4 linked regions of the Homo sapiens genome follow. The protein of the gene in region 3 interacts with the protein of the main gene of each other region in a pairwise test. Each region holds a gene or a part of one and is shown on either strand. Other genes may lie near its edges. The genes, in order: MOCOS, UQCRH, ARL8A and SPG21.

Region 1 (6,881 bases), on a different chromosome or scaffold from region 3:
GAATGCTGCCTTCCTTCCCCCACCTCCTCCTCCAGGACCCTCTGGGCAGGTCTCCCAGCAGCCCCAGGTCTGGGAGGCTCTTTACCCCAAGCCTGGACCTTTGTGGGAAGGACTTTTCTCTAGCGCTCTGCAGCCTGGAGGGGTGACCTGACTATGAACCTATCTCCTTCCTCATCCCAGGAGCCTCTCAGGCACAGAGACTGCCTTGCTGACTGTTGTCTTCTCAGTGCCTACCATGTTTGCAGCAGGGCACAGCTGCCCAGTGAACACTGAATAAATGCCCCTGCCAAAAGCACTAGTAATTTTCAAGTGAATCTTCTAGTGTTTCAAGCCTGGACAGTTGCAAGAGGTTATAGCTGGTTTTCCTGCTCCCAATTCTCACAGGCTCATCCAGTCTGGTCATGGCCATTGGATAGTTCTACCTAAATCACTCATAGGGCACTTTCTAGTTCCAAAGCCTGCCTTTCCTTTGTTTGTCTACCACCAACTCCAAGCCTAACTCTGACAAGCACTCATTCATCTTCTGCTGAGTGAGTGAATGAATGAATGAATGAATGAATACATGAATGAATGCTTTGTATATAGTAGAGATTCTTGCAAGTGGAGCCCATTGCTAGGAGACACTGGGGGTGGGAGTTGTTAACCTGGGAGCAAGGGGATTTCGGGAAGCATCATCAGGAGGTAAGGAATCAGGCTCAGTGAGGTGCACCAGGGACTAAGATTCACACGGGGAGAGATTTAAAGTACAAAATTGAGGGCATCTCACCTGTCTGCCCAACTGGCTCATAGACACATAATTTTTCAAGTTCTTAGGTGAGAAAGGGTTGCAAGTGGGAGTTGGAAGAGCTGTTTTCCTACCTAGCTGTAAACTTTAGGTGCAGAAGCTGGCCTCTGGGGAACTCAGCATGGACCAGCTCAGGTTGCTTGGAAGCTCCAAGGCCAGCAGCTGGACCAGGTGAGAAGTGGCCATGGCAGCCTATAGCACAGGGCCCAGGAGATCACTCCTCCTCCCAGGTCAGACATTCCTTGGTGGGGATAGAGGTTCTGCTTAAGGCAGGGTGAGAGCGAGCAATCTGACTTCTGATAGTCTCTTTCTGGTAGGAGCGGCCCAGGGAATCTTGGTGAAATGCACCTAAGGGTGCCAATTAGAGGCCAAGACTCCCAGTGTTTCTCACATTCCCTACTCCTCCTCCCATCTTGACTGGCTCACTGCTATGGCCCACTTCAAAGGCTTCCTCCTTTGGGCTACCTTCCCTGGATATCTTGCTAGGAAGTAGCCGCTTCCTCTCTTTCAATTCTATACCTGCATCCTGAACCAGTGCTGCCTGGGCACTCAGCCCACATTGCCTTGTGGCTAGTGTAGGTTCATTTTCCTACTCAGCTGTAGGTGCTATCTTCACATCCACCCTCCCAAGCACACAGTGCCCTAGATGGGCATAGCCAACTGCTTTAAAGTATTTCTGGATTAATGGTAGATCCGTGATTTTTAATAACCTTCAGGAGTTCTGCACTGACTTGGCCTATTCCAATCCATCACTAGGCGAGCTTGTCTGAAGCAGCACCCCTGTGGACTGGTGGTTTGTTAGTTGGCTGTAGAACTCCTTGAGGAGAGGTTCTCCTTACATTTCCAGGGAAATGACCTAGGCCCTCCCTCCTCAGAGTGCCATTCGTGAATGGGGCATCAGCATCACCTGGGCTACTTAGAAACACAGAACCTCAAAGAGTCAGAACCTGCCTTTGAATAGGCTCTCTAGGGGATTCATGCAAATGAATGCCTGGAAACCCTGGCCTAGGGGAGACTCTCACCAGGAAGCAGGGCTTTAAAAGGATGGGTGAGGAGTGACACACTGAACAGCTGCTGGGAGGACCAACTCACCCCTCTCAACTTAGATGGGGAAACTGAGGCCCTGGGAACCACGGTGGCTCACACCAGAGAGTTAGCAAAACACACTTCCCTGCCTGGGCTCTGGAGACTGACTTCCCAGGTGCTAGCTTGTCTTCTAGCTGTGTGCCCGTGTGCAAGTTATTCTGCCTCTCTCTGCCTCAGCTTCCCCATCTGTAAGAGCCACCTCCTAGATCTGCATATTTAATCATTGAACGACCAGGACAGGTAAGAGTGTACACAGTGCAGTGCCTGGCACACAGTGAGGCCCTGTAACTAGCTCTTGTTATTAGTGCTGCCCAAAGCCACATTCACAGAAGACAGTCCAGTATCCAAAGTGCCTGCTTGAAGCATGGCCAGAAGGCAAGCAGATGGTGGGGTGGGCAGTGATGTCAATGAGCAAATGCCTGCATCCATCCATCAGTACATTAACTCCTCCTCGAACAACTATGGGTGTTTGTCGAGTAAGGTCCTGGACATTCAGCAGTGAGGGAGAGAGCGGGGGTGGTCAGTGGGCAGAGGCCACTGAGGAATATGGGTACCTGGGCATGGACCCTAGCGCTGCAGTCCACAGACCCCTGGGTCTCCGGCCAGGGGGAAATGAGCTCTTAGTGGCGGGTCTTTCTCTGGCCTGGTATCAGGGGCCTGGGCGGGAGAGCCAGGGCTGCGTGCTGCCTTCCCATGGCTCTCACGCTGGGCACCGGTATGCATCATGCATCAGCAAGGATCCTAGGGCATCTGCGGCCCATACCCTGGGTGGCAGCTGGCCTGGATGCAGCACAGGTTGAGCTCTTGGGGCATAGGCCTCCTTCCCACCTTGTCCCCCCGCTGTATGCCTCCAGGGCCTGTGGGCCGCCTGCACCTGGTCGCCGGCCTTGGGTTCTCCACCGAGCCTGCCTCTGAGTTATCTCCCCTGAGCCCCAGCACCTGCCGCCCATCCGCACTGTCCACCATCCCTGACATTCGATTCCCCCACGAGGCACCTCGCCTGTGCGTGCAGTACCTGTTTTGCTTCCACCCCATTCCCAGCAGCGGGTTCCGCACCTGGGATCGCACGTGAGATTTCCCCCCACCCCCCAACCGCATGCCTGGGCTCTACTACCTGCACCTGCCGCCCCACCCCTGCATCCCGCTCCGCACTTCCCGCGCATAGGTTTGGCCAGGCCCTCCCTATTGAGGCACCTGTTCTCCAAGACAGAGCCGCTGTGTCCCAGGTGCTCTGGGTGCAGGCGCGAGTGGGGATTGAAGGAGGCGCTCTTATTCCACTCTGTCCGGGACAGGGGCGGCTTTGTCCTAGGGCACTCTTGCTTTAATAGAGAGGGCCCGGCCACACCCACGTGCGGGAAGTGCGGGGCGGGATGCAGGGTTGGGGAGGCAAGGGCAGGAAGTAGGGCCCAGGACGCGGTTGGGAGGGCGGGGAAGCTCAGCTCACTTGGATCCCAGCTGCAGGGCCCGCTCCGGGGGAAGCCCCCGAGCTTCCCGGTTCCGAAAGTGTGCAGCCACTGAGAATTTATTAGCCTCGTGGATCCCTAATCTTTCCCCTTTTCTACCCTTTGGTCAGCCGCATTCTAACAAACGGCAAGCACACGCCCCGCTGGGTAGCAGCAACCCGAGAACGCCCCCACCCCCGCCCCCGCCAGACGCCGGTTCCCGCTTGAGAGGGTGAGGGTCCCGAGACCCCTGCGAGGAGGAGGGTCGCGGGGTTCCAGGATGCCGATGCCAAGCAGGAAAGATCACCTCGTTGCTTCTTCCACCGGCCTCTCCGCGAGACATAGCTAAACTTGAACTTGGCATTCCAAGGGTCTGGAAACATCTTCGTGGGACCCATCGAGAGGTTGTTTAAAGACTGGCACCCGCTCCCGCGCCCAGGTGGGGAAAGGGCTGGCCAGAAGTGAAAGTCCGGTCGGGGCGCCACACCTAGGCTGCGGATTCCGAGAGACTGGGAGGCTGGAGGCCTGGGAGGCGTGGCGGGGGCGGAGTCGCCGGGGGCCGGCTTCGCGCACTTCCCGGGCCCGGCCGGCCTGGATGGACTAGCCGGGGCCATGGCCGGCGCGGCGGCGGAGTCAGGGCGGGAGCTGTGGACCTTCGCGGGTTCCCGGGACCCGAGCGCACCGCGGCTAGCCTACGGCTACGGCCCGGGCAGCCTGCGCGAGCTGCGGGCGCGCGAGTTCAGCCGCCTGGCAGGTGAGGCGGGCGGGCAGGCTTGGGGGACACGAGGTTTCTGGAACCGACGTGGACGGATCTTTTGCTCCTAGTGAGAGCGGCGCTACCTCATTCGGGCGCATTTTGAATCGAAACTCCAGGAGGGACGTGTCCACGCGTCCTCCTAGTAGACACGGCTCCCTGAGGTCCCACCTGCAGCCCCAAGGCTTCTTGCTACTCTTACTCTTCCGACTTTCCGGTGGGCAGGACCAACCTAGCCGTCTTCCCCTTTTCCCGCCCTCCGCGAGCGGGGCTTAGGATGGTTCTTGCCCTCTCTTGCGGGAGACCCCTCACTGTAAAGGGCCTGCTGGGGCCGGGGTTGCAAAAGACAGCATGTCCAGCGGCCGTGACCCTTCGGATGTCCTCCCGAGGTAGGAGCGGTGCGTGGACCGCCAGCGCCCGGGCTGGGACAGCACCTCTGACGGCGCGCCAGGTTGGGACCGGGAGGCCAAGGCCTCTTGGCCGGGGCCTCCCGAGGCTGCGCTCTGCAGACTCCTCTGGGATAGCCTGTATTCAGCTTTGATTTTCGAAACCTCATTTTCCTTACTCTTACAGCGTCAGAACAATCCCTCTGAGCTCCAGTTCTCTGGGGGACTAGAAGAATTAGCAAACAGTGCAATTTCACCTTTAAGAACAGGGCGAGCCTGTGAATTAGACAACACCAAGATCACATCGTGCCTTTCCTCAGAGCGGAACAGGCTGATGAAATTGCAAATCAAGCTCCATCTGGCCTTGGCCGACCCAGCCCTCTGCTGCCAGGGCCCAAGTTCGTGACTCATCCCTCTGCCAGGGACTTTGGGTGCAGGGCTTCATCAAGCCCCAGGGCCGCGTGCCGGATGGTCAAGGAGGGTGTGCAGGTGAAGTGGGCACGTCTTGGCACAGGGCACCGGGGTTTGAGTGTATCTGCTCTGTCGCGATGAACAACTGGTGACTGCTCCCCTTCTGGGGGCAGAACAGCAACCATGACTTAGGTTTCACTACTCGGGTAGCTGATTTCAGCGCTTCGGGTCACTTCCTGGTGTTGTGGAGGGTAACTGTGTTTTCCCTTTGGGGGCTGTGAGAACTGTGGCCTCCTCCTGTGTGTCTCCTCTGGCTTCCTAAGTAGGGAGAGTCAGGAGGGAGACGGGGGTGCCTTCTGCCAACCTCTCTATTCACTCCTCATCCTTCCCTCTCGCAGGGTCACCTGCTGGAGACAGCTCCTCACCCTTCTTTCGTATTCTCTCTCTCTCTCTCTCTCTCAACTATTAATTATGGAAATTTCCTACCACTCAGAAATAGAGGGGTACTATGAATGCCTACAGGTGCTGGGGAGGGAGGCTCTCCATTCTTTGAAGCAACTCTTCAAGGCTACCTGAGTAATTATATCAGCACCGCACCTCCTTAATCCCCTAAATCTCCTCCAGCTGTGATCTCTCACGCCCACTATTGGCCAACCTCTCCCCTCAATGCTACCCTGGGAAAGTAGAGCTATGTTCTGGTCCCCTCCTGGTTTCACTCTTGTCCCTCAGAGAACAGTACTTTTCCCCTCAAATGCAAAATTGGGATGTGTCAGCCAGGCTGGCCCTCAGAACTCGTTACCACTTACTGTATGTCTGGTAGTGTTGTGGGCATCTTTTATTTAATGCAAGTTCCTTGTATTTCCTCTACATTACGGTTAAAGCAGACATTTGTGCACTAATCTGACGCCCCTCCCACTGCTGGGAGTCTTGGAACATGTCCACTTGTTTTTCTCCTAGAAACAAGACAGAGAGAGGGCGGGAAAAAACAAACCAAAATAACATCACCTCTTCCTCGTTCCTCCTCTCCCCTCATGAAGTTTTTCTGCCAATTTGAGAATTACTCTGGTTAAGTGGTGGCTCAGAATAATTAAATGCTTAAGATTTAAGTGCTGAAATGTGTTACCTAAAGATTTGGATGGGAACTTCCTTGCCTTTGTGAAGGGAGAGTATTGAATATACGGATGTGTGTCAAGGGTCTCTGGAAGCCTTCGTGCTGAATCATGACCACTCACCATGCTGGAAAGAGAACTGGAGGGGGATGACCTAGAGCTGACCCTGGAATTCTCTTTCCTGAAGAAGGTCTGATGCCATTTAACTTTGGGGTAATTCACCTGTTTCTAATAACAGCTACACCTGTGTCCCGAGCATTGGACTGGATGCTGCCATATAGCAGCTCATTTAACCTTTGTCCCATCTGCAGATGAAAGAACAGGGGCCCAGAATGGCTACTGGTGGAGCCAGGATTCAAGTCTGGGTTGATTGACTTGGATTTTGTACTGTTAACCCCTATGCTGCCTGACTTTCTCCTAACATCACATCTATGGGTGATTTAACACAGCTTTCCCACCCTTTTGTTTTTCCTGCAAAATTAACCATTGGACCAAAAGCCAAAGCATCTTCTTCTCCAATAGCTACTTGGCCCTCCAGAAGACTGTGGCACAGTGTGAGATGCTCCCCAGCAGCTTCCAGGTCTCACCTGTGGCCTTGATGCCTGGGTGAACAAAAGCCTTTCTTTTGGTTTGGTACCTTTGTATTTCTGAATCTTTAGTAAAAGCGAACATTGTTTTAAAAGTATCTTTTTGGACTAGCTCATACATTTGATATGGTTTGGCTCTGTGTCCCCACCTAAATCTCGTGTTGAATTGTAATTCCCAGTGTTGGGGGAGGGACCTGGTAGGAGGTGATTGGATCAAGGGGGTGGATTTCCCCCTTGCAGTTCTCGTGAGGGTGCGTTCTCACAAGATCCGGTTGTTTAAAGTGTGTAGCACAAACTGGGTATGGTGGCTCAAGCCTGTAAT
Region 2 (7,022 bases), about 160 Mb from region 3:
AGCTTGCCTGGTTATCTATATCTATCTATCTATCTATCTATCTATCTATCTATCTATCTATCTGTCTATATTTTTTTGAGATGAAGTCTCGCTCTGTCGCCCAGGCTGGAGTGCAGTGGCACAATCTCAGCTCACTGCAAGCTCCGCCTCCCGGGTTCACGCCATTCTCCAGCCTCAGCCTCCCAAGTAGCTGGGACTACAGGCGCCCGCCACCACGCCCGGCTAATTTTTTTGTATTTTTAGTAGAGATGGGGTTTCACCATATTGGCCAGGCTGGTCTCGATCTCCTGACCTCATGATCCACCCGCCTCCGCCTCCCAAAGGGCTGGGATTACAGGCGTGAGCCACCGCGCCCGGCTTTTATATATATATTTTTTGTAAAGACAGGGTTTTACCATGTTGCCCAGGCTGGTCTCAAATTCCTGGGCTCAGGTGATCTGCCTGCCTTGACCTCGCAAAGTTCTGCGATTACAAGCATGAGCCACAGTGCCCAGCCTAGCTGATGGACACTTATGTTGTTTCCACTTTTTGGGTAGTATAAATAATGCTTCTATGAACATTTGTGTACAAGTTTTTATGTGAACATATGTTTTCATTTCTCTTGGGTATATATCTTCGAGTGTAATTGCTGTGTCATATATTAACTGTATATTTAGCCTTTTGAGGAACTGCCAGATGTTTTCCACAGTGGCTGTACCAATTTACACTTTTACTGACAGCGTATGAGGTTTCCAACTTTTCCACATTGTCGTCAACACTCGTTATCTTCTTTATTATAGCCATCCTAGTGGGCAGTTGGTATAAAGTGTTATCTCATGGTAGTATCCCTGGTGGCTAATGATGTTGAACATCTTTTCATACGTTTACTGGCCATCCAATTAGTTTTAATAGAAGCAACCACATCAAACTTTGCTTATGTATAATTTATGTAAAATACCTTACTGTGTTATATGTAAGAGTCAAGCAGAAGTTTATTTTTATTTTTTTAATTTTGATTTTTTAAAAGTAGAGACAGGGTTCCCCTATCTTGCCCAGGCTGGTCTTAAACTCCTGGGGTCAAGGGGTCCTCCTGCCTTGGTCTTCCAAAAGTGCTAGGATCATAAGCGTCAGCCACTATGCCCTGCCTGAGTTTACTTTTAAAAAACAACCCCTTGAGGCCAGGCATGGTATCTCACACCTGTAATCCCAACACTCTGGGAAGCTGAGATGAGTGGCATGTGTGAACCCAGGAGTTCTAGACCAGCCTGGGCAACACGGCAAAATCCCATCTCTACAAAAAATACAAAAATTACCCAGGTATGGGCCAGGTGCGGTGGCTCACGCCTGTAATCTCAGCACTTTGGAAGGCTGAGGCAGGTGGATCACTGGAGGTCAGGAGTTCAAGACCAGCCTGGCCAACATGGTGAAACCCCGTCTCTACTAAAAATACAAACAAACAAAAAATTAGCTGGGTGTGGTGGCGTGCACCTTTAATCCCAGTTACTTGGGAGGCTGAAGCAGGAAAATCGCTTGAACCCAGGAGGTGGAGGTTGCAGTGAGCCAAGATTGCGCCACTGCACTCCAGCCTGGGTGACAGAGTGCAACTCAGTCTCAAATTAAAAAAAAAAAAAATTACCAAGGCATGGTGGCATGTGCCTATAGTCCTGGCTACTCAGAGGCTAAGGCAGAAGGATTGTTTGAACCAGGAGGTAGAGGCTGTAGTGTGCCATAATTGTGCCACTGCACTCCAGCCTGGGTGACAGAGCAAGCAAGACCTTATCTCAAAAAAAAAAAAAAAGGCTGGGTGCAGTGGTTCACACCTGTAATCCCAGAACTTTGGAAGGCTGAGGCAGGTGGATCACAGGGGTCAGGAGACTGAGACCATCTTGGCTAACACAGTGAAACCCCGTCTCTACTAAAAATACAAAAAAACAAAAACAAACAAACAAAAAAAAACAAAAAAACCATTAGCCGGGAATGGTGGCGGGCGCCTGCGGTCCCAGCTACTCGGGAGGCAGAGGCAAGAGAATGGCGTGAAGCCGGGAGGTGGAGCTTGCAGTGAGCCGAGATCGCGCCACTGCACTCCAGCCTGGGCGACAGACCAAGACTCCGTCTCAAAAAAAAAAGCAACCTTTTGGACCAACTACTATATATTAGACACATTTGAGGATACAAATTATTTTTTTTTTGGCGCAACCTTGGCTCACTGCAAGCTCCGCCTCCTGGGTTGACGCCATTCTCCTGCCTCAGGCTCCCGAGTAGCTGGGGGCTACAGGCGCCCGCCACCACGCCCGGCTAATTTTTTGTACTTTAGTAGGGACGGGTTTCGCTGTGTTAGCCAAGATGGTCTCAATCTCCTGACCTCGTGATCCGCCCGCCTCCGCCTCCGCCTCCGCCTCCGCCTCCCAAAGTGCTGGGATTACAGGCGTGAGCCACCGCGCCCGGCCAATACAAATTATTTTTAAAGAACAGTCTGTTATTGAAAAGTACAAAATCCAGCTTCCCCACTGTTTAGTGGTGCATGTTGGGATGTTTATGTTTTTTTCTCTGAGCCTCAGTTTCTATCTGTGAAATGGGATAATGATACCTATCTCCAGTGGAAGTAGTAAGGATTAGGCAAGATTATTATTATTATTATTTTTTTTTTTTTTTGAGATGGAGTCTCGCTCTGTCGCCCAGGCCAGACTGCGGACTGCAGTGGCGCAATCTCGGCTCACTGCAAGCTCCGCTTCCCCGGGTTCACGCCATTCTCCTGCCTCAGCCTCCCGAGTAGCTGGGACTACAGGCGCCCGCCACCGCGCCCAGCTAATTTTTTGTATTTTTAGTAGAGACGGGGTTTCACCTTGTTAGCCAGGATGGTCTCGATCTCCTGACCTCATGATCCACCCGCCTCGGCCTCCCAAAGTGCTGGGATTACAGGCATGAGCCACCGCGCCCTAGGCAAGATTATTTATAGGCCAGGCACAATGGCTCATGCCTATAATCCCAGCACTTCAGAGGGCCGAGATGGAAGGAAGGATTGCTTGAGCCCAGGAGTTTGAGACCAGCCTGGGCAACATAACAAGGCCCCGTCACTAGAAAAAATTAAAAAATAAAAAATTAGCCTCTCATGGTGGCATGCACTTGTAGTCCCAGCTACTTGGGAGGCCAAGGCAGGATCACTTAGGCCCAGGAGTTCAAGGTTGGCACTGAGCTACGATCATGCCGCTGTACTTCAGCCTGGACAACATAGTGAGACCCTCTCAATAAAATAGAATAGGTTATTTACATAAAATGCTCAGCGCACCATATGTCACATATATTGGGCCCAGAGTAACTGATGGGCCTTTCCCTAGCATGGAAAGATTGTTGGCACCAAGTCTTCCCTGACCATTGCAACCTTTCCCCTTCCTGACTTCCCACTGACTTACGCAATGGTCCCTCGCATGCAAGAAGTCAAAGAGCTCCTCCGTGCAATCCTCTTCTGTATGTGATCGAGAGGATACACGCTCATCACAGAGCTCTAGCCGCTCCCGGGCCTTTACACATTTCTCCAACTGCTCGCATTGCTCTCTCACTGTTGTTAGGGGATCCTGATGTAGAAACAGAAAAAAAACAAAATGGGCATTTTTAGCAGAGACCCACCAAACACATATGCTTTGATTAACACAACCACCAAACCAAGGTGCTGCCTCTGAATTACCGTGCAGAAGGCCAGCTGGCAGAGCCACACTGCCGCCAGAAATGGCAGAATGCGGTCTCCCATTCAATTCTGATGCTAAGTAGTAGGGAAAAGTTTCACATTCCTGCCTTCCAAGGTTGCCAGTATGCACTGAAAGCCTCAGTCCTATCTGAAAAACAAGGTGGTAAAGGAAACCTGGCCAAACTTGAAGTAGATCTATAGGAGGCCTTACTTGTTAACACAGCATTTTGGAATATGACACGTCTGAAACTTCAAATCCCCTTGTCTGAGAACCAGGCCTATGCACCCCAGCTGCCCAACTAGAAAGGCAATGCTAACATAGAGAAGGACTATCTAACAAAGGTTCCTTCAGAGTTCTTTTTTTTTTTTTTTTTAAGACGGAGTTTTGCTCTTGTTGCCCAGGCTGGAGCGCAATGGCGCAATCTCAGCTCACCACAACCTCCGCCTCTCGGGTTCGAGCAATTCTCCTGCCTCAGCCTCTCGAGTAGCTGGGATTACAGGCATGTGCCACCACGCCCGGCTAATTTTGTATTTTTAGTAGAGATGGGGTTTCTCTACGTTGTTCAGGCTGGTAATCCGCCTGCCTTGGCCTCCCAAAGTGCTGAGATTACAGGCACGAGCCACCATGCCTAGCCCAAAGTTCTTTATTAAACCACAAATAGCAGATGATTGAGTGCCAGGCCCTCAAGATGCCATCTGCTCCCTGGTACCACAACTGAAGAAGCCCCAAACCCAGAACAGACTCAGCTTCCAAGGCTCACACCCTAAACTCTCCACTGCACAGGAAGTATCAAAGCTTATTCCACCCCCATTATCTACAAGGTATCAAGTAAAAACTCCTTAAAATGCCCTTAGAATTTCATGAAGCTCAAACCCTGCTTTTACTGAGATGTTTCCAAACCTGAGACAGTTCTTACCACTAATTCCTCCTCTTCCTCTTCCTCCTACAAAAGGAAAACAAAATTAATGTCAGCAGCAATTTTATGACATATTTATTCCTGATCATACTGATGTAATTACTGACGATAGACACTGACACTATTAACGATGTTATTTTGTTTTCTGTGTTTTATGATGTTTTTACATTTTAGAGGCCTTGCTAATCCTGGAGCTAATCCTGCTCTTCCAGGGCTAATTTTTAGACAGCAAACTTGCCTGCGAGCATACCTTTCATATGCAACGTAACTATCCAAAGTGCTTGTAGCAAACTGCCTCCTTTATCTTTTGTTTAAGAGACAGAGTCTTGCTCTGTCATAGCTCACTGCAGCCACAAACTCCTGGGCTCAAGTGATCCTCCTGCCTCAGCCTTCTGAGTAGCTAGGACTATAAGCACACGCCACATGCCTGGCTAATTTAAAAATTTTCTTTGTGGTAGAGACAAGGTCTCATTATGTTGCCCAGGCTGCTCTCAAACTCCTGGGCTCAATCAATCCTCCTACCTTGGCCTCCCAAAGTGGTGGGATTATAGGCATTAGCCACTCAGCCTGGCCCTGCCTCCTTTATCTAAGTTTTGTACACTAAGCTCCTGTTTCCCCTTCTCTAAATCACCCCAGGGACAAATATAGGACAACTAGGAACCAGCCCTATAAGCTAGAGCCCAACGAAATTATTCAAACTATCCAATCCTAAATTTGAGCAAGTGTACCTACGCTGCCCACCAATTCCTTCCCATAGAAACCAAGGTGCTGAGCCATGCTTCCTTCCCCTCATACCTTCTGCCTCCTGACGAGCTCAGACACTTCCCCATATAGCTCTGCATTTTTTTGTGTGGCATATCCCTCTCTTTCAGGAAATTTAAGTAATAATAAACTCTTCTTTCAAAGGCGGTTGTCTCCAGGTCTGTCACCTTACCATACTTGGTTAAAACGAATCCCAGGTATATTTCAAGACAGAGACACCATCTCACTTTCATTAACAAGAACCTAAGTGTGCTTAATACTCTCCAGTTTATAAAGCACCTTCATATCTCTTATGATTTAATTAATCACAACAGTCCCTTAAGGAGGTAATCCCAGTTTAGAGATAATAAACAGTAATTAGACATTTTCTGATACAGATTCAAGCTGCCAGATGTTCACATGGGGCCTACATAATCTAAAGTATTTGTCCCAGTATTGCTACAAATAGCAAAATTTAGTCCTTACATCCCAAACCAAGTTAGGAGGAAAACCCATTTTTTTCTAGACTGTGAACTTGAATTAGGAATATGAAAACTGCTAAACCTAAAAACCCTTGTTTGGTCAGAGCTTAACTAAGGATGGTTAGTCACTGCTTTTTGGCTTGCTGAACTCCCAGAACCCCTAGTAGACTAAGTATATCAAATAAAAGTGCACAACTCCACTCATGAGCTTGGAAATACAGAACAGACCCCACCTATTCACTTCTGATTCAAATGCACAACCTCAAACTTAGTTTCCTTCTTCTTCAAGGATAGTAGTGTAAAAAACTGCCCATGGGAGCAACAGTTTAGGCCTAAATTTGGGATATAGTAAAATCTGACCTCAGAAATAAGGTGTTTGCCTGCCTGTGCATGCAGATACCCACATTTGGGGGCAAGGAAAGAAAAGGTATCTAGGGAAATAAAAAGAACTAGCTCAGGAATCATGTTTTCAGAACTCCAATACAGGGCCAGGTGAGAGGACTGCTTGAGACCAGCCTGGGCAACATGACAAGACCCCATCTCTAAAAAAATTAAAAACAGGCTGGGCATAGTGGTTCACACCTGTAATCCCAGCACTTTGGGAGGCTGAGGTGGCCAGATCACCTGAGGTCAGGAGTTCTCAATCAGCCCGGCCACCATGGTGAAACCCCGTCTCTACTAAAAATACAAAAATTACCTGGGCATGGTGGCACGCGCCTGAAATCCCAGCTACTCAGGAGGCTGAGGCAGGAGAATCACCTGAAACCAGGAGGCAGAGGTTGCAGGAGCCAAGATCCTACCCCTGCACTCCAGCCTGGGCGACAGAGAGACTCCGTCTCAAAAATAAATAAATTAGCCGGGCATGGTGGCGCACGTCTGTGGTCATGGCTACTCAGAAGGCCGAGGTGGGAGGATCCCTTGAGCCCAGGGGTTTGAGGCTGCAGTGAGCTATGACTGTACCACTGCACCCCAGTCTGGGTGACAAGAGTGAGACCCCGTCTCCAAAAAAAGTCCTAATACATGTTTCATCCTCTACCATGCCATTCAGTGAAGCCACCAAAGCTCATACAAGCTGGGAGTGAGGGGTAGGAAAGGTTCAATTTGGAATCCAGGCTATTTATTCTCACAATTGGCAAAGGTTTCTTCTAAATATGAAGATGCTATTTAGGATGTAAATTCTAGTTTTTCATTAACAAGGTTTCTTAATGCTGCTCTTTTAAA
Region 3 (7,638 bases):
ACTCCAAGACTAGTTATTCCATAGGACAGTCTTTGACACTTTTAAATATTTGAAAATGACCCTGTTGTTTCCTAGGACAAAACATCTCCCACTTTTCTAGCATCACAACTTTTTCAGAACTCAAAGGATGTTTTAGGTTCCTTTTTTTTTTTTGAGACGGAGTTTCGCTCTTGTTGCCCAGGCTGGAGTGCAGTGGCGGCACGATCTTAACTCACTGCAGCCTCCGCCTCCTGGGTTCAAGCAATTCTCTTGCCTCAGCCTCCCAAGTAGCTGGGATTACAGGTGGCCACCACCATGCCTGGCTAATTTTTGTATTTTTAGTAGAGATGGGGTTTCACCATGTTGGCCAGGCTGGTCTCGAACTCCTAGCCTCAGGTGAAACCCCCACTTTGGCCTCCCAATTGCTGGGATTACAGGCGTGAGCCACCATGCCCGGCTGATGTTTCAGGTTCTTAGAAGCAGTGTATATAATTTCTTTCCAGCTCACATTAACCTGCTGAGCAGCTAGACACACTAAACTCAATTTCTATTTACAGCCAGACCTCATAGGGTGAGTAGAAAAAACCCAATGGCGAAAGATCTGAGACAAACAGAGGCCAAATGAACAGGCACAGGTAATTCAGAAATTCAGTGGTAGGCATGGGAACAGAGCCCAGGGGTCCCAACTCTTCGTTTCTTTCTGGAAGACACTCAACTGTGATTATACACGGGGTGGGCAGCAATGCCAGTGTGGTAGCCCCAGAGGATCTGAAAACACTGGAGTGACCGGGACACTGGAATTCCAACTGCAGCCCACATGGGGTGGTTTTCCTTGGGAAGCCTCTCTAAAGAAGGGAATTTAGCTTGCCTGCTCTTTTAGAATGTGCCAGCGGAAGTGGCAAATTTAAGATTAAAAAGGGGACCTTGTGGGCTGGAGATGGGGTGCTTTTCCTGTATATCACAGGAACTCTTGACCCTGGCAGGGGAATTTGGGACTCTTGGGTTCTGTTTCTGGCCTGCTATAGTCTCCAACTCTCTGGATATGATGCTGGTCTAGAGGGGGCCCTCCTGTCAAAGGCTCAACTGCAGACCCAGAAACCGAACCCACCCGGGTACCTGTGGATCCCTGTCCCAGAGCACAGCTATAGTAACACCCTGGGGAACGAGGAGATACCTAGGCCCAGCTGCATTTCTCAGACCTAAACGCCTAGAACCCAAGCCACCTAGGCCTGCAGAGTCAGGTCAGAGTCCAGGTGTTATGTGCCTGCTCTGGGAATCCAAGAGCCTAAGTCAATGCCAAGTTTAACCAGAGGGTCTCTGACCCCAAGGGCAGAGCCTAGGCAGACAGAGCCCAGGGGTGTTAGCTCCGAAAATTACTGTGCCAAAACCGCAGCATTGGCCTGAAGATCCTGCCCTGTCAGGTCAGGAGACAGGAGACACTGGGTCGAGAAAGGGCAGAGGTCATTTGCAGAGCATGTTTGGGAAAGGAAGCCAGTGTTCAATTGTGTAACCACAGGATGCCCGCCCCTCGAGCTTTCCATCTGCCTTCATGCCTCAGGTCCAATGAAGTGACGTCCCCTGCCTTCTAGGACGCTGAGAACTGTCGAGGAGGCCCATCTTCTGCAAGGTGGGGCAACAACACGGACAGGTAGAGGTACCTAGGCCGGCTGGATACATTCCTCTGCTGACCTATCTCATCAGTATCTTTGGTTACTATCTGGCCAACTCACAGTTGTGGGAAACCTCAGCTTTGGGACTGGGGCCAGGTCCCTGGACAACCCCAGCCCCTGTCCCATGCTTCCTCGACCCACAAGCCCTGTCTAGCCTGGCTCTGACAGGCAGGCCGCAGCCATTACGGCAGCCTCAGCTCACACCCATGGAGCTCATCTTCCCCTTTTTTGAGAGAGATTTTAACTCCTTCCCCACCACTCCCCTGGCGCTGAAAGACTTACAATCACCCACTTCAGTGTTGACGACCCAAAGCCCTTAGAGCCACTCTCCCAAGGCCCCAGTGGGCCGTGCCCCTACACCTCATCCTCTCTTGTCGGGAGCACCTGCTCCTGCAAACTTCTGAGCCAGACGGAGTCTCCAAACTCCCGTTACCATGCGATCCTCCCTGGACCCCCGGCTAGACACTGCGGGTCGGGGAGAAGTTGGGGAGGAGTCTGGGCTTGAGCCAAGGGCCTCAGCTGACTCCTCTACCCCGGGGGATACCTCCCCTCCCCCTCAATAGGGCCGGGGCTTCCTCTTCCGGCAAGGAGGGGTTAAGCCCTCTGGGTGGGGCTGGGCTTGCCCAAACCCCCTCCTCAAGCCTCTCGGCCGCCCCGTCCCGTGACCCTCTACCCGCGGGACAGGAAGGCCCGTGCACTTTCGCCCCGTCATGCCCCCTTGCGCGGGGGCCAGAGGGGGCCCGTCTCAGCCGGCAGCGGGTCCCTCCTGCTTCGAGAGCCCCTCGGTGCCGCCTGCCCCGTGGCACCGGCCCTGTCTGTTCGTCCCCCTTCCCCTGCCCCCAGCCGTGCAGTACCGGCCCGGGTGAGAGAGCGGGTCGCGCGCCGCCCCGGTCCCCCACGGCACGGGCCGTACTAGGCCCCAAGCGCTCGGGGCCGGCTCCTCCCCCGCCCGGCGCCCGGCCGTGCCCGGCTATGCCAGGCGGCGACCCCGGCTCAGCAGGGCGCGGCGCGGGCGGGGACAGGCCCGACCCGCGGCCCGCGCCCGGGGACCCCGCGCCCGACGCCCTCGTACCGCGATCACGTTGACGAAGGTGGTCTTGCCCGAGTACTGAAGCCCGACCAGCGTGAGCTCCATCTCCTCCTTCCAGAATAGGGCCTTGAACCAGTCCAGCAGCTTGTTGAACAAAGCGATCATGGTCGCTGCCGCCGGCCCCGCCCGGTGCCAGGTCCCCGCCGCCCCTCGCTGCCCTCGCGCTGCGGCCCGGAGCGGCCCCTCCCCGGTACGGCCCGGGTCCCGCGGCTCGGTGCGGGCGGAGGCTCGAGCGCGGCTGCCGACGACTCGCTGCCCCGGAATCGGCTCGCCGATGGGTGTGGCTTCCGCGCCCTCCTCCTCCGCCGCCGCCGCCGCCCTCCCTCGCGGCCGGGCCGTGTCCTGCTCGCACCCGAGCGCGCGCTCCTCCCTCGCTGGAGCCGGGGGGCCAGGGGCCGCACCCGCAGGTGGGGTGAGCAGGGAATCCGCAGGTGGGGTGAGCAGGGAATCCGCAGGCTTCAGCGGCGGGGGTTGACCGGCAGCTGGCGTCGAGAGGCGCTTGGGAAATGGGGTCTAATTTATTTTAGACCCTGTCCCCGACTGCCGCGCCCTGACTGGCACCCCCTTTCTTAAAGGGTGGTGGGCTCGAGGTGGGTGAGGTTCCGGTTAAGCAGGAGCCTTTTCAGGTTGAAGGAGAGTGGGTCACCCACTTCCCAGGACACGGAGATGAGATCTCTACGACAGGGAGGCAGATGGAGGCTTTTTTGTCCCTGAACCCTTGCCTCTGAGCATTCCTGGGTACAGTCCCATCCTCTCAAAATGCACCCAGTGCAGAGGGACAACCGTATTCGGGTCTTTTAATACTCCATCTTGTTTTGTTCACCACAATTTACCCCGACCACTTGTTAGGAAGCCTCTGGCCCCAAGTGAAACGGACGCTTGAACTTGCTCCGGATTTTTACCAGCATCCCCAAGATACCCAAACAGATACAGTCCTGGCAGGGGGTTTTCAGTGAGGAACGTCTGTGACAAAGGAAAATGTTGCCCTGTTTTGGTGAAAAGCAGAGTATTCTTCAGGAGGAGAAGTGATAGTTCTCCTCTTGAAGTGGGTCTGGAGTGCCTGCAAAGATGCCTTACTCCTGCCCCTCTCCTTGCAAGACCCACCCATAGGACCTGCTCAGGCAGGCTGACAACCTCAGCTGGCAGTCCCGGGTAGGCTCAGGCTTCGGGCAGTCCCCAGCCTATGCTGGCTGCCCGTTGGGGTTTGGTTTTCAAATGTAGTCATATGTAGTCTATTGTTTTAGTCAAAAGTGGGTAAACTATCAATATCAACCATATCTGTCCAATCAACTGGAGTTAGATGACCCCAAATAGTCAAACAGTTACCAAAGTAGAAGAATCACAAGGTTTCGGCTAGCATAATATTGTTTTTTTTTTTTTTTTTGATGGGGTCTCACTGTGTGGCCCAGGCTGGAGTGCAGCGGTGGGATCTCGACTCACTGCAGCCTCCACCTCCTCGGGCTCAGGTGATTCTTCTACCTCAGCCTCCCGAGTAGCTGGGACTACAGGCATGCGCCACCATGCCAGCCTAATTTTTGTATATTTGGTAGAGACGGGGTTTTGCCATGTTGTCCAGGCTGGTCTCGAAGCCCTGAGCTCAAGCCATCTGCCTGCCTCAGCCTCCCAAAGTGCTGGGATTACAGGCATGAGCCTGGCCAATATTCTGGTTTATTAAGCACCATCTTTCTAACCTCTGCCCTTTATAAGTCCTCCTCTAGCTCCTAAGATAAAGGCTATGGACTGAATGTTTGTGTCCCCCCAAATTCATAGGTTGAAGTCCTAATCCCTAAAGTGATGGTATTAGGAGGTGATTAAGTCATGAGGGTAGAGCCTTATAAAGGGGGCCGGTGGGATTAGGGGGAAGAATACCAGCCCACAACCTTTTCACCATGCAAGGACAGAAAGAAGGCTCTGCCTAATAGCCAGACACTGAGTCTGCAAGGGTCTTGATCCTAGACTTCCCAGCTTCCAGAACTGTGAGCAACACATTTCTTTTTTTCTTTTTTCTTTTTTTTTTGAGATGGAGTCTTGCTCTGTCATCCAGGCTGGAGTGCAGTGGCATGATAGCTCACTGCACCCTCCACCTCCAGGGTTCAAACAATTCTTCTGCCTCAGCCTCCCGAATAGCTGACTACAGGTGTGTGCTACCACGTCCGGCTAATTTTTTGTATTTTTAGTAGAGACAGCGTTTCACTGTGTTAGCTGGATCTCCTGACCTCGTGATCCGCCTGCCTCGGCCTCCCAAAGTGCTGGGATTACAGGCATGAGCCACCACGCCAGGCCAGCAATACATTTCTGTTGTTTAGAAGCCACATGGTTTACGGTAGTGTGAATTGTTACAGCTGCCTGGGTAGGCTATGAGGGTCCACCCTGTCTCACTTCCTAAATTGACTTTGGTTTCACCTTACTTTATGTCCTTGGAAGTGCTAGAAAAGTGCATATCCCAAGGGCAAAGATTTGCAGCCTGCCTGTCCCTGGTCTGCAGTCTTTCTCTCTTGCTACAAAGAGGCCCCAGAGGGCCAAGAAGAAGATGGAAAGAAGGAATGAGTCAGTCATCCAAGAAGTCTTTATTTTCCCACTTGGTTACTGTTCTGGAGCTTGTACCCTCTGAGCTCTGAGATGGGGTTGGGGGGACAGTGCCAGGGAGGGCCTGTGGGGCTGTGCAGTTGCTTCCCTCTGGGCTGGCTCTGAGCCCAGGGCAGGATCAGGCACTTGAGAGCCCCCCACCGAGCCTCATTGGCATAGACAGTCGTGCCTCTCACAGGGCTCAGGGGAGGTGGAGGTGTGGGCAAGTCCATCCCCAAGGCTGTAAGGAAGGAGCAGCTCCTCCATAAGGCCAAGCAGAAGCATTAGGGAAATCATCCTCAGTTTTAGCACTGCGTGTTCTTCAGGAGAGAAGTCCTGAGTGAGGAGGCCCAGCTGTTCTCCAGATCCAACTCCTCGGGGGTTTCCACAGAGAGCTGGTATCAAGGCAGCTGTCAGGGGCGGCGTGCCTGGTGATGCGGCATCTTACCTTCATCCCCATCTCAGAATGGGCAGCCAGTCTCAGATTCAAGGAGGAGGAATCCTGAGGTGTGGCGTTCAGTCCTGAGGTAGACCTGAGGTCCCCTGGAAATTGTGTTGATGCTGAGATGGATGAGGGGTGCTCATTCTCTCAGGTAGACAGTGAGGAGTCCTGGTTCAGCCGAGCCTCCATGTCTGCATGGATGGTTATGACCCTGATTGTTTTTGGAAACAGCCAAGCTCTCTAGGTGTACTCAGCAAATGCAAGGTATAGTGGGTCCTGCATACCCAGGGTATTATTTGAGCCATGGAAGCAAAACAGAGACTGCTTAGCCTCCCTAAGAGTAGTTGGTGGGAGTGGCCAGCAACCATGGAGGCAGGAGCAGCTCCTCTTTGCCTCTGAGTAGTCCCCACATGTTCCCTCTTCCAGAGATTTCAACTGCCAGGCCTGGTCACCTCTGTAGCCTACTCTTATGACACATGGGTGGAGGCAAGGGTAACCAGAGTCCTTGTTCTTTCTTTTGATTGGGGTCATCCAGCCCTTCCGATGTGTGGTCAGGGAGCAGAGTCACTGATAGGATGTTGAGACTTGGAGATCAGGACCAGACTTTTCCCCATTCTTGCATCTGGCCTGTGCTTGGGCAGGACCTCGGGTGAAGGATGATCTTGGAATCACCCTTTTGTCAGCCCCAGGAAGGAGTGGCTGGAGTGGCTTCTAGAAACTTCTCTCATTACTTTTCCCTCATGGCAGCTAAGCACTTATGTTCATGTTATAGAACAGGAAACTGAAGCTCACAAAGAGTGTCTCAGAGAACACCAGGACACCTGGGCTTCTTTCTTTGTCTGTCATAAATGCCAGCTCCTGTCTTTAAGTTCAGAGAGACATTGGAGGTTCCCCTTACTGTCCATCTGGGGCCAACAGAGGAAGCAGAGGAGTGGCCAGTGTTGAAGACCTGGAATCCGGCCCCTTGTCCTTACTGCTGCTGCTTCCTGTGACTGCAAGCACCACTAAGGAGGCACTCCTTCCCCACACCAACCCAAGGGGTACCCCCAGATCACTCGGCCCACTTTCCCCAGACCCACCTTCCCAGGCTTGAGGGAGGTAGGCACCTGGGCCACCGGAGGGTGGCAGGGGTCAGGGGCTGGGTTCCTCAGGCAGCTGGCCTGCATACAGGGCCAAAGTGTGGTGCAGGAACTGGTACTGCTCTGCCGTCTGGATCATCCCCCCTCTGCAAGGAGAAACACACAGACCATGAGTGAAGGAGGGTCAGGGTGCTGGCTGAATGGCTCCAGTCAAACATCCCTGTGGTCCTACTGGGAAAGTCCTGACTTTCTCAAAGAACATGCCAACTCCTTTGCCTATATTCATCTTTTCACTTTTTTTTTTTTTTTTTTTTTTTTGTGAGACAGAGTCTCACTCTGATAGCCAGGCTGGAGAGCAGTGGTATGATCTCAGCTCACTGCAACCTCTGCCTCCCAGGTTCAAGTGATTCTCCTGCCTCAATCTCCTGAGTAGCTAGGACTACAAGTGCCTGCCACCTTGCCCAGCTAATTTTTGTATTTTTAGTAGAAACAGGGTTTCACCATGTTGCCAGGGTGGTCTTGAACTCCTGACCTCAAGTGATTGGCCCATCTTGGCCTCCCAAACTGCTTGGATTGCAGACATGAGCCACCATGCCCCACCACCTATATTCATCTTTTCTACTTTCTACTCCTCATTGCTGCCCCTCAGATCTGCTGTGAGAGAAGTCCTCTGCCCCTTACACGTGCTGAGGGGTGATGCCCCATGTTGACACTTGGTCTTCCTTGATCCACTCAGCTCCTGGGACAAAACCAGATCTCTGAAGCCTTGGGTCGGGCCAGGAATACTCCTGAGCCTCAAGTTTCCTTCTTTCT
Region 4 (7,413 bases), on a different chromosome or scaffold from region 3:
AATCTATTCTAAAGGAGGGAAAATAAAAACATGTTTAGCAAATAACATCTACTCAATAGATTTATAAAACACCTTAGCTAACTAAAGCCAGAAAGTGTGCTTCTAGAGTCACCAAATGGGATAAATCATTCATAGCTTTGAAATCAGTTGCAATGCACAAACCAAACCACCATACAAATACACACATACACAGGCACACATATTCACGCGGTCATCCTCTTCTTTCCCATAGCAGTAAATAGAAAGATGTTCCTTACCAACAGTCTTCAGAATAATTCACAACCACCTCAGGATGCCAACGTGTTAAAAGTAATCTTACAAGATGGAGAGATTCCACTCCGCTGTGACTAAATTTTTGTAGAGACAAGTAATTTTAACACTTGTGCTAGTTTGGCAGTACATGAAAGGTAAAATGGATACCAAATGTTGCATCTGACCAACTGACGTCTAAGTGAAAAAAAGATCACTGCTGCAAAGGGAAAACAGCTGTGAGTGGTATGAATAGGAAAGTTTGTTCTCCTAGCTCTCTTTCATCCACCAAAGGGGTATACTTTTCCAAATCATAAGAGGAATATTCTGTATATGGCAAAGGTTAACTGAGATTGTGACCAAACTGGTCAGTACTGAATAAGAAAGAATGTGGACCATGAGCTCAAAACTGATTTTATCTCTCATGATTTTGTTCTTCACAAAAACAAAAGCACCTGTTCATGCTGGTGGGAAAAGAGCCACAATATTAGCCTTAATCTTGCCTAAGGAAAGCCCTCTTCAGGGTGTGCTGTGGACTCCCTGTCTTCTCTGGCCCTTGTGCTGCTGGACAATAAAAACTGCCAGTTGTGGCTGGGTGCAGTGGCTCACGCCTATAATCCCAGCACTTTGGGAGGCTGAGGCAGGTGGATCACCTGAGGTCAGGAGTTCGAGACCAGCCTGGCCAACATGGTGCAGCCCCGTCTCTACTAAAAATACAAAATTAGCTAGGCGTGGTGGCACATGCCTGTAATCCCAGCTACGCAGGAAGCTGAGGCAGAAGAATCACTTGAACCCGGGAGGCAGAGGTTGCGGTGAGCCGAGATCACGCCATTGCACTCCAGCCTGGGCAACGAGAGCGAAACTCCATCTCAAAAAAACAAACAAAACAGCAACAACAACAAAAACAAATTAGCTGGGCGCGGTGATGGGCTCCTGTAATCCCAGCTACTTAGGAGGCTGAGGCAGGAGAATTGCTTGAACCTGGGTGGCGGAGGTTGCAGTGAGCTGAGATCACACCACTGCACTCCAGCCTGGGCGACAGAGTGAGACTCTGTCTCAAAAAACAAACAAACAAACAAACAAAAAAACCTGCCAGTTGTGACTATGCCCCTATCCCTCATGGCTTCAACAGAACCTGCCACTTTAAAGTCAACAAAATCACCTTTATCAATGTTTAAGTCACATAACCAGCATAATTAGTCAGAGGTTTCTGCTACTTTATTTCAATCTATAGTTGATGTGCATTGTGGAAAATCTGTGCTTATAAATACTAGCCATAACAAAATATTAGAAGCTGAGAGTCTCTGGGAGATGCAACTGGCTTTTTAATGCACGTCTCCATCCCTCACCACAGAAGTACACAGCTATCCTTTTCTTAGATCTCTTCAGGGGAGATCTATCCCTCTTTTCTTCATTGCATTATCTCTAAACCTTACAGGAGGAAAAGGTGCCTACCTGACATCTGTGACATCTCTTCTCATGCTCTTGGGAAAAAAGCTTTTGGAATTTGGACACAGCTATTAAGTTACTCCTCAGTGGCCAGCCGCGATGGCTCACGCCTGTAATCTCAGCCCTTTGGGAGGCCGAGGCGGGCGGATCACGAGGTCAGGAGATCGAGGCCATCCTGGCTAACACGGTGAAACCCCGTCTCTACTAAAAATACAAAAAATTAGCCGGGCGTGGTGGCGGGAGCCTGTAGTGCCAGCTACTCGGGAGGCTGAGGCAGGAGAATGGCGTAAACCCAGCAGACAGAGCTTGCAGTGAGCTGGGATGGCGCCACTGCACTCCAGCCTGGGCGACGGAGCGAGACTCCGTCTCAAAAAAAAAAAAAAAAAAAAAGTTACTCCTTAATTTGTTGAATCTTTGTGCCAAAAGGAGCTGAACCAGTGTAGGTGGAGACAAAGGAAGCAGCATAAATGTCTAACTTATAACTCCCCAGGAAAACGAGAAGAGGAAAAATGAGACACTCCGGTCCCGCTCTGTTCCTCATCCCCCGTTTACAAACCTTACACCTGGCCCACACTCAGTAACAACAAAGACATCTATCACTTTCAGGCCGAGGTCCTGTCTCCAAAATTACTGGCCTCTGCTCACAGTTCTTAAAAGTTTGCTGAGAAAAAAAAAAAGAAAGAAAGAAAGAAAGAAATGTTCCTGGGCTGCAGTCGTGTAGCCCCAGGATGGGTTTACAGGAGGATGCCCCGGTTAAGCCCTGTGCCGCCCCCACCTCCCGCTGGAGACTCACACACAGCTCCCCGCCAGTCCCACCGGTGACAGCCACACAAAGGCAGGGTCACAAGCACACCGACCACCCCACAGCCCAGATTCGGCCCCAGACACACACTCACAAGGGCACGTGATCACGTGCGTGGTCACATGGACCGGCCCACTCAGAACACACTCACAAAGTCACACCAACCAAGGCAGCCACGCGCCACACACACACACCTACAACCCCGCATACCGCACACCCAGCCGCTTCCCAGGGCTTCGCCCACCCTCACCTGCCGTGGCCGCCCCCACGTCCCTTCCCCTCCTTCAGGAGGCCGCTCTTCGCTCCAGTACGAGCGCGGGCCGTGGAGGCGGCTGGGCCCGGGTCGGGGCGGGCGGCGGAGCACTCGGGACCCACGGGCACAGCAGGCTGCGCGGTGCGTGCGGGAGGCCGGCCTCTGAGGGGGCGGGGCGCGTGGCCGAGCGAGCTTGGGCCGCCGCGCTCCCCCCGCCCGACCGCCGCTCAGCTGGCGCGAGACTCCCGCTTCCGGGTTCTCAGAGGGCGGGGCCACGTCGCGAGGAAGGGGCGGTGCTGCGTGGCCCCGGCGGTCGCCACGGCGACGGGCGCGGGGGGAGGCTCCGTGGGATGCTTGGCTGCGGCTGGCGTGAGGAGAGGGCTGAGTTACGTCTGGGTCAGCCTTAGTTCTGCCCTACGTACCTAGGAGGAGGAGGAGGTGGAGGAGGCGCCTGGCCCCTTGGGACCTGCTTCTTCTTTCAGTTCGCGTTTTCTCTGTCGTGTACAGCTTTGGAGGGACACCTTTGGGTTCCAGACTTTGATGAACACAACTTTGTATACTCTTTTCTTAGGAACATTTTTTTTCCTTTGGCACAACCGTAGACGCTCTCCGTAGTCCTCCACTCAAAGCCTCCGCTTCCTTTTTGACGTTCTGGGGATTTCTGGGAACATACGCCCACCCATCTTCCTGTTCCTTCATCACTTTTCCCTTAAAATCAGAGAGAATATTAATACATTTGTAATCATTGTTCTTAAGGTGTTGCAGACGTCACGTCTTAAGGTGTTCCAGACTTCACGACTCCTTTTTTATTAGTAAAATATTTCTGAAATTATGATAAGGTGAATAACATGTAAATCTCCTTGTTTTGAATTTTTTTTTTAGGGATCCTGCAACAAGGTCCTGTTGAAAGTGCCTCTCTCTAATATGTTTTAGGGAAAGCTTGTACCCTGTTTTAGGGCCTGTAGACTTTGCCTTTACCTAGGCAACTGTTTATGGGATTAAGGTCAGGGAAGATTCCAACTAAATTGCATCCTACTTAGTTATCACTTCTGTCCCCTGGCCCAGGAGCCTTGGGTTCCACTCTAGAACTTGGACAAATCCCAAAAGCATTTTCCAAAAGCACGGTGACATACTTACCTTTTTCTTTCTTTCTTTTTTTCTCTAAATCATTTCTTTCGGGGTTGCAACTCAGTCGCAGGAATTCATCTTTTATTGTAAGCACCACATAGATGTATAGAGCACGTTTCCGTGGAGTATTTTAAGTTGGGGGCCTTTTCTCCAACATTTGGAATCGTTTAATGGGTGGAATAACTTGCAAACTACTGGTTGTCTCTGAAACTGGTTATGGATATTCATTACATTAGTTGTCTATTTTCCCAGGTGGTCTCGAAGCTTCAATCTAGAGCAAAGGGAATAGAGTGATTCCACCAGTCCATTAGCACATGATTAGCCCATAAATAATAGGTACTAAATGTATATTGATTGTAATCCCAGCACTTTGGGAGGCCAAGGTGGACGGATCGCTTGATTGAGCCCAGGAGTTCGAGACTAGCCTGGGCAACCTGGGAGACCCTGTCTGTACAAAAAAATACAAAAATTAGCCGGGCGTGGTGGCGCATGCCTGTAATCCCCGCTACTCAGGAGGCTGAGATGGGAGAATCTGTTAAGCCCAGATGTCGAATCCACTGCACCACATCCTAGGTGACAAAGCGAGAGACCTTGTCTGCTCCCAACAAAAAACTATATTGAATGAATTAATGAGTGGAATAAATAAATCTATCCCCATTTCCACATTTGTTCCTAAAGCTGTATTCCTTAGACCCCATCCCTAGACCCCATTTAGTAACAGCTTTAATGAGACCTAATCTATGGATATACCCGTATGTTAAAAGTCATTGTTCTGTTAGTGTGGTAGTAAACTTTGACAATTGACAATAAAAAAAAATCACTATGTAGATATGTTTTGTTACATATCAACTTTTATTACAATGTAGACCAATCCAAAAATAATAAATGTTTTACTTCTTTCAGGAAGGGAAACCATGGTCATGTTTGTGTCCTCAGTTGTTCCATAACACATGGCAAGCACATTGTCCCTTTCCTAATCCCAACAAAGAACATTTAATATCTGTGAATTCCAGCTGAATTGTAATGCACAAATTCAGGCAGCAAACTTTTGATTCAGGCAGGTCCCAGTGCAGGCTGACCTGGTAGACATGGCTGTAAGGATTTGCAGCTGTTGTGGCTGGGGTCTGCCAGATGGTTCCCACAGCACCAATTCATCTGTGAGAATCTCACAGAAAAACTGGAATGTTCACAAAATATGCTGTGAACACCAAGCAAAGTAAACAGATGGCCAGCTGGCTCTCAGAATTACCCAAACCCGGGCTCTGTCCCTCTTAATTTATCTTTTCACAGGATAATATTTGTTTGAAAACACACAAAATAATCCCAGATCCAGAAATATCCCTATGCATGTGTATACATAAGTGAATGCACTTTTTTTTTTTTTTGAGACGGAGTCTTGCTCTGTTGCCAGGCTGGATTGCAGTGGCACATCTCAGCTCATTGCAACCTCCGCCTCCCGGATTCAAGCTATTCTCCTGCCTCAGCCTCCCGAGTAGCTGGGTCTACAGGTGCCTGCCACCACACCCAGCTAATTTTTGTATTTTTAGTAGAGACGGGGTTTCACCATGTTGGCCAGGATGGTCTCGATCTCTTGACTTCGTGATCCTCCCGCCTCGGCCTCCCAAAGTGCTGGGATTACAGGCGTGAGCCACTGCGCCCAGCTGTGAATGCACTTTTTAAAATGTTTGGAGAGGTATGTACCAAGCAGCTAAGTGATTACCTCGGAGGAGGAACTGGGGATGGAGGGAGTGGTGAAGAACTTTGACTTTGGATTTAATAGTTGAGTTTATATTAAAATGTATTCATATATTATCTGTGTGATCAAAATAATTAAAAGCAGCCAGGCATAGTGGCTCATACCTGTAATCCCAGCACTGAGGGAAGCCAAGGCGGGTGGATCACTTGAGGTCAGGAGTTCGAGACCAGCCTGGCCAACATGGCAAAACCCCCATCTCTACTAAAAATACAAAAATTAGCCGGGTGTGGTGGTGCACACCTGTAATCCCAGCTACTGGGGAGGCTGAGGCAGGATAATCACTTGAACCCACCTGGGAGGCGGCAGTTGCAGTAAGCTCAGATCATGCCACTGCACTCCAGACTGGGTGACAGAGTGAGACTCTGTCTCAAATAATAATAATATTAATAATAATTAAAAGCAACTATATTTCTGTAATTCCTCTGCTATAAATCCTTCAATAGCTCCCCACTGCCTTCAAGCTAAAGTTCAAGGTATGCAGAGTAGAGCAGGTCTGGCTCTTGACTCAGATCTCTGTGGGGCCAAAGTGCTCTAGTCATACCAACTGCTTGAAGGGCCCCAAACACCTCCTGATGTCTCAGGAAGCCTCTAGGCTTTTGTATATGCCTTCCTTCCATTTAGAATGCCTCCCTCCAGTGCACCCATTAGAGTGAAAACATTTATTTTACCCCCAGGAACCACGGATGTGTAAAAAAGTGAAAGAGAAACAAAACACTTGCTTTTTCAGACTAATACTAATTCTTGGAATACCATCCCCTTAAAGCTTTACAGGGTACAGTCGATTGCAGTGTTATATACCAAATTATGCTGAGACCCAAGATTGAAAATGAATGCTCTTTCCTCATTGCCAGACCAAGTCTATGTAAAATGTATACTGCACTGGATTGGAGGAATCAGACACAAAGTGGGTATTCAGGAACTGGCTTAGAAAAATGCTGATGTGGCTATTTTAGAGGTTACTACCTAAAGGCATTATCAAACAGAAGTTATATATAGTTATTTTTAATTAATAATGTATTAGTTGTCATCTAGGAGTTCAGAAACCTGAGTTTTATCTTTGAGCAAAACATATCCTCTGCTAGGTCTGGTTTCCTTCTCTGTAAAATGAGGCCAAGGCTAAACTAAATTATCTGTAAGTTCTTTCCAATTCTAAGATTTTAGATTTTATAAATTTATAAGAGATTTGTCAAAGAATCTTTACAGCTGGGCGCGGTGGCTCACGCCTGTAATCCCAGCACTTTGGGAGGTTGAGGCAGGTGGATCACCTGAAGTTGGGAGTTCAAGACCAGCCTGACCAACATTGAGAAACGCTGTCTCTACTAAAAATACAAAATTAGCCAGGGTGGTGGCATGTGCCTGTAATCCCAGCTACTCAGGGGGCTGAGGCAGGAGAATCGCTTGAACCCGGGAGGCAGACATTGCAGTGAGCCGAGATCGCACCATTGCACTCCAGCCTGGGCAAAAAGAGCAAAACTCCATCTCAAAAAAAAAAATAAGGATCTTTACATCTTTACAGCAGTCTTTCCTCAAAGCTGCCCTTCTCTGATAATATTCCTCCTCCTTCTTGCTTCCAATCAAACTTTAAAAAAAAAAAAAAAACAGGCCAGGCACGATGGCTCATGCCTGTAATCCCAGCACTTTGGGAGGCCGAGGTGGGTGGATCACGAGGTCAGGAGATTGAGACCATCCTGGCTAACACGGTGACACCCTGTCTCTCCTAAAAATACCAAAAATTAGCCGGGTGTAGTGGCGGGCGCTTGTGGTCCCAGCTACTCG

What was found.
Region 1: the proteins of ARL8A (region 3) and MOCOS interact in binary tests that used the Homo sapiens proteins (3 or more experiments, as listed by UniProt).
Region 2: the proteins of ARL8A (region 3) and UQCRH interact in binary tests that used the Homo sapiens proteins (3 or more experiments, as listed by UniProt).
Region 4: the proteins of ARL8A (region 3) and SPG21 interact in binary tests that used the Homo sapiens proteins (3 or more experiments, as listed by UniProt).

Annotation. Positions count from the first base shown.
Region 1 is NC_000018.10:36,183,616-36,190,496, forward strand, and holds the start of MOCOS (molybdenum cofactor sulfurase), read left to right. Parts: upstream 1-3,881; 5' UTR 3,882-3,924; coding exon 3,925-4,066; intron 4,067-6,881. UniProt on the Homo sapiens protein: Sulfurates the molybdenum cofactor. Sulfation of molybdenum is essential for xanthine dehydrogenase (XDH) and aldehyde oxidase (ADO) enzymes in which molybdenum cofactor is liganded by 1 oxygen and 1 sulfur atom in active form.
Region 2 is NC_000001.11:46,306,684-46,313,705, reverse strand, and holds part of UQCRH (cytochrome b-c1 complex subunit 6, mitochondrial isoform 1 precursor), read right to left. Parts: intron 4,606-7,022; coding exon 4,579-4,605; intron 3,810-4,578; exon of another isoform or gene 3,725-3,809; coding exon of another isoform or gene 3,662-3,724; intron 3,552-3,661; coding exon 3,390-3,551; intron 1-3,389. UniProt on the Homo sapiens protein: Component of the ubiquinol-cytochrome c oxidoreductase, a multisubunit transmembrane complex that is part of the mitochondrial electron transport chain which drives oxidative phosphorylation.
Region 3 is NC_000001.11:202,141,729-202,149,366, forward strand, and holds the start of ARL8A (ADP-ribosylation factor-like protein 8A), read right to left. Parts: upstream 3,010-7,638; 5' UTR 2,845-3,009; coding exon 2,722-2,844; intron 1-2,721. Other genes in the region: PTPN7 (tyrosine-protein phosphatase non-receptor type 7), read right to left, coding at 6,878-6,971, 7,507-7,638. UniProt on the Homo sapiens protein: Plays a role in lysosome motility. In neurons, mediates the anterograde axonal long-range transport of presynaptic lysosome-related vesicles required for presynaptic biogenesis and synaptic function. May play a role in chromosome segregation.
Region 4 is NC_000015.10:64,986,915-64,994,327, forward strand, and holds the start of SPG21 (maspardin), read right to left. Parts: upstream 3,001-7,413; 5' UTR 2,751-3,000; intron 2,557-2,750; exon of another isoform or gene 2,492-2,556; intron 1-2,491. UniProt on the Homo sapiens protein: May play a role as a negative regulatory factor in CD4-dependent T-cell activation.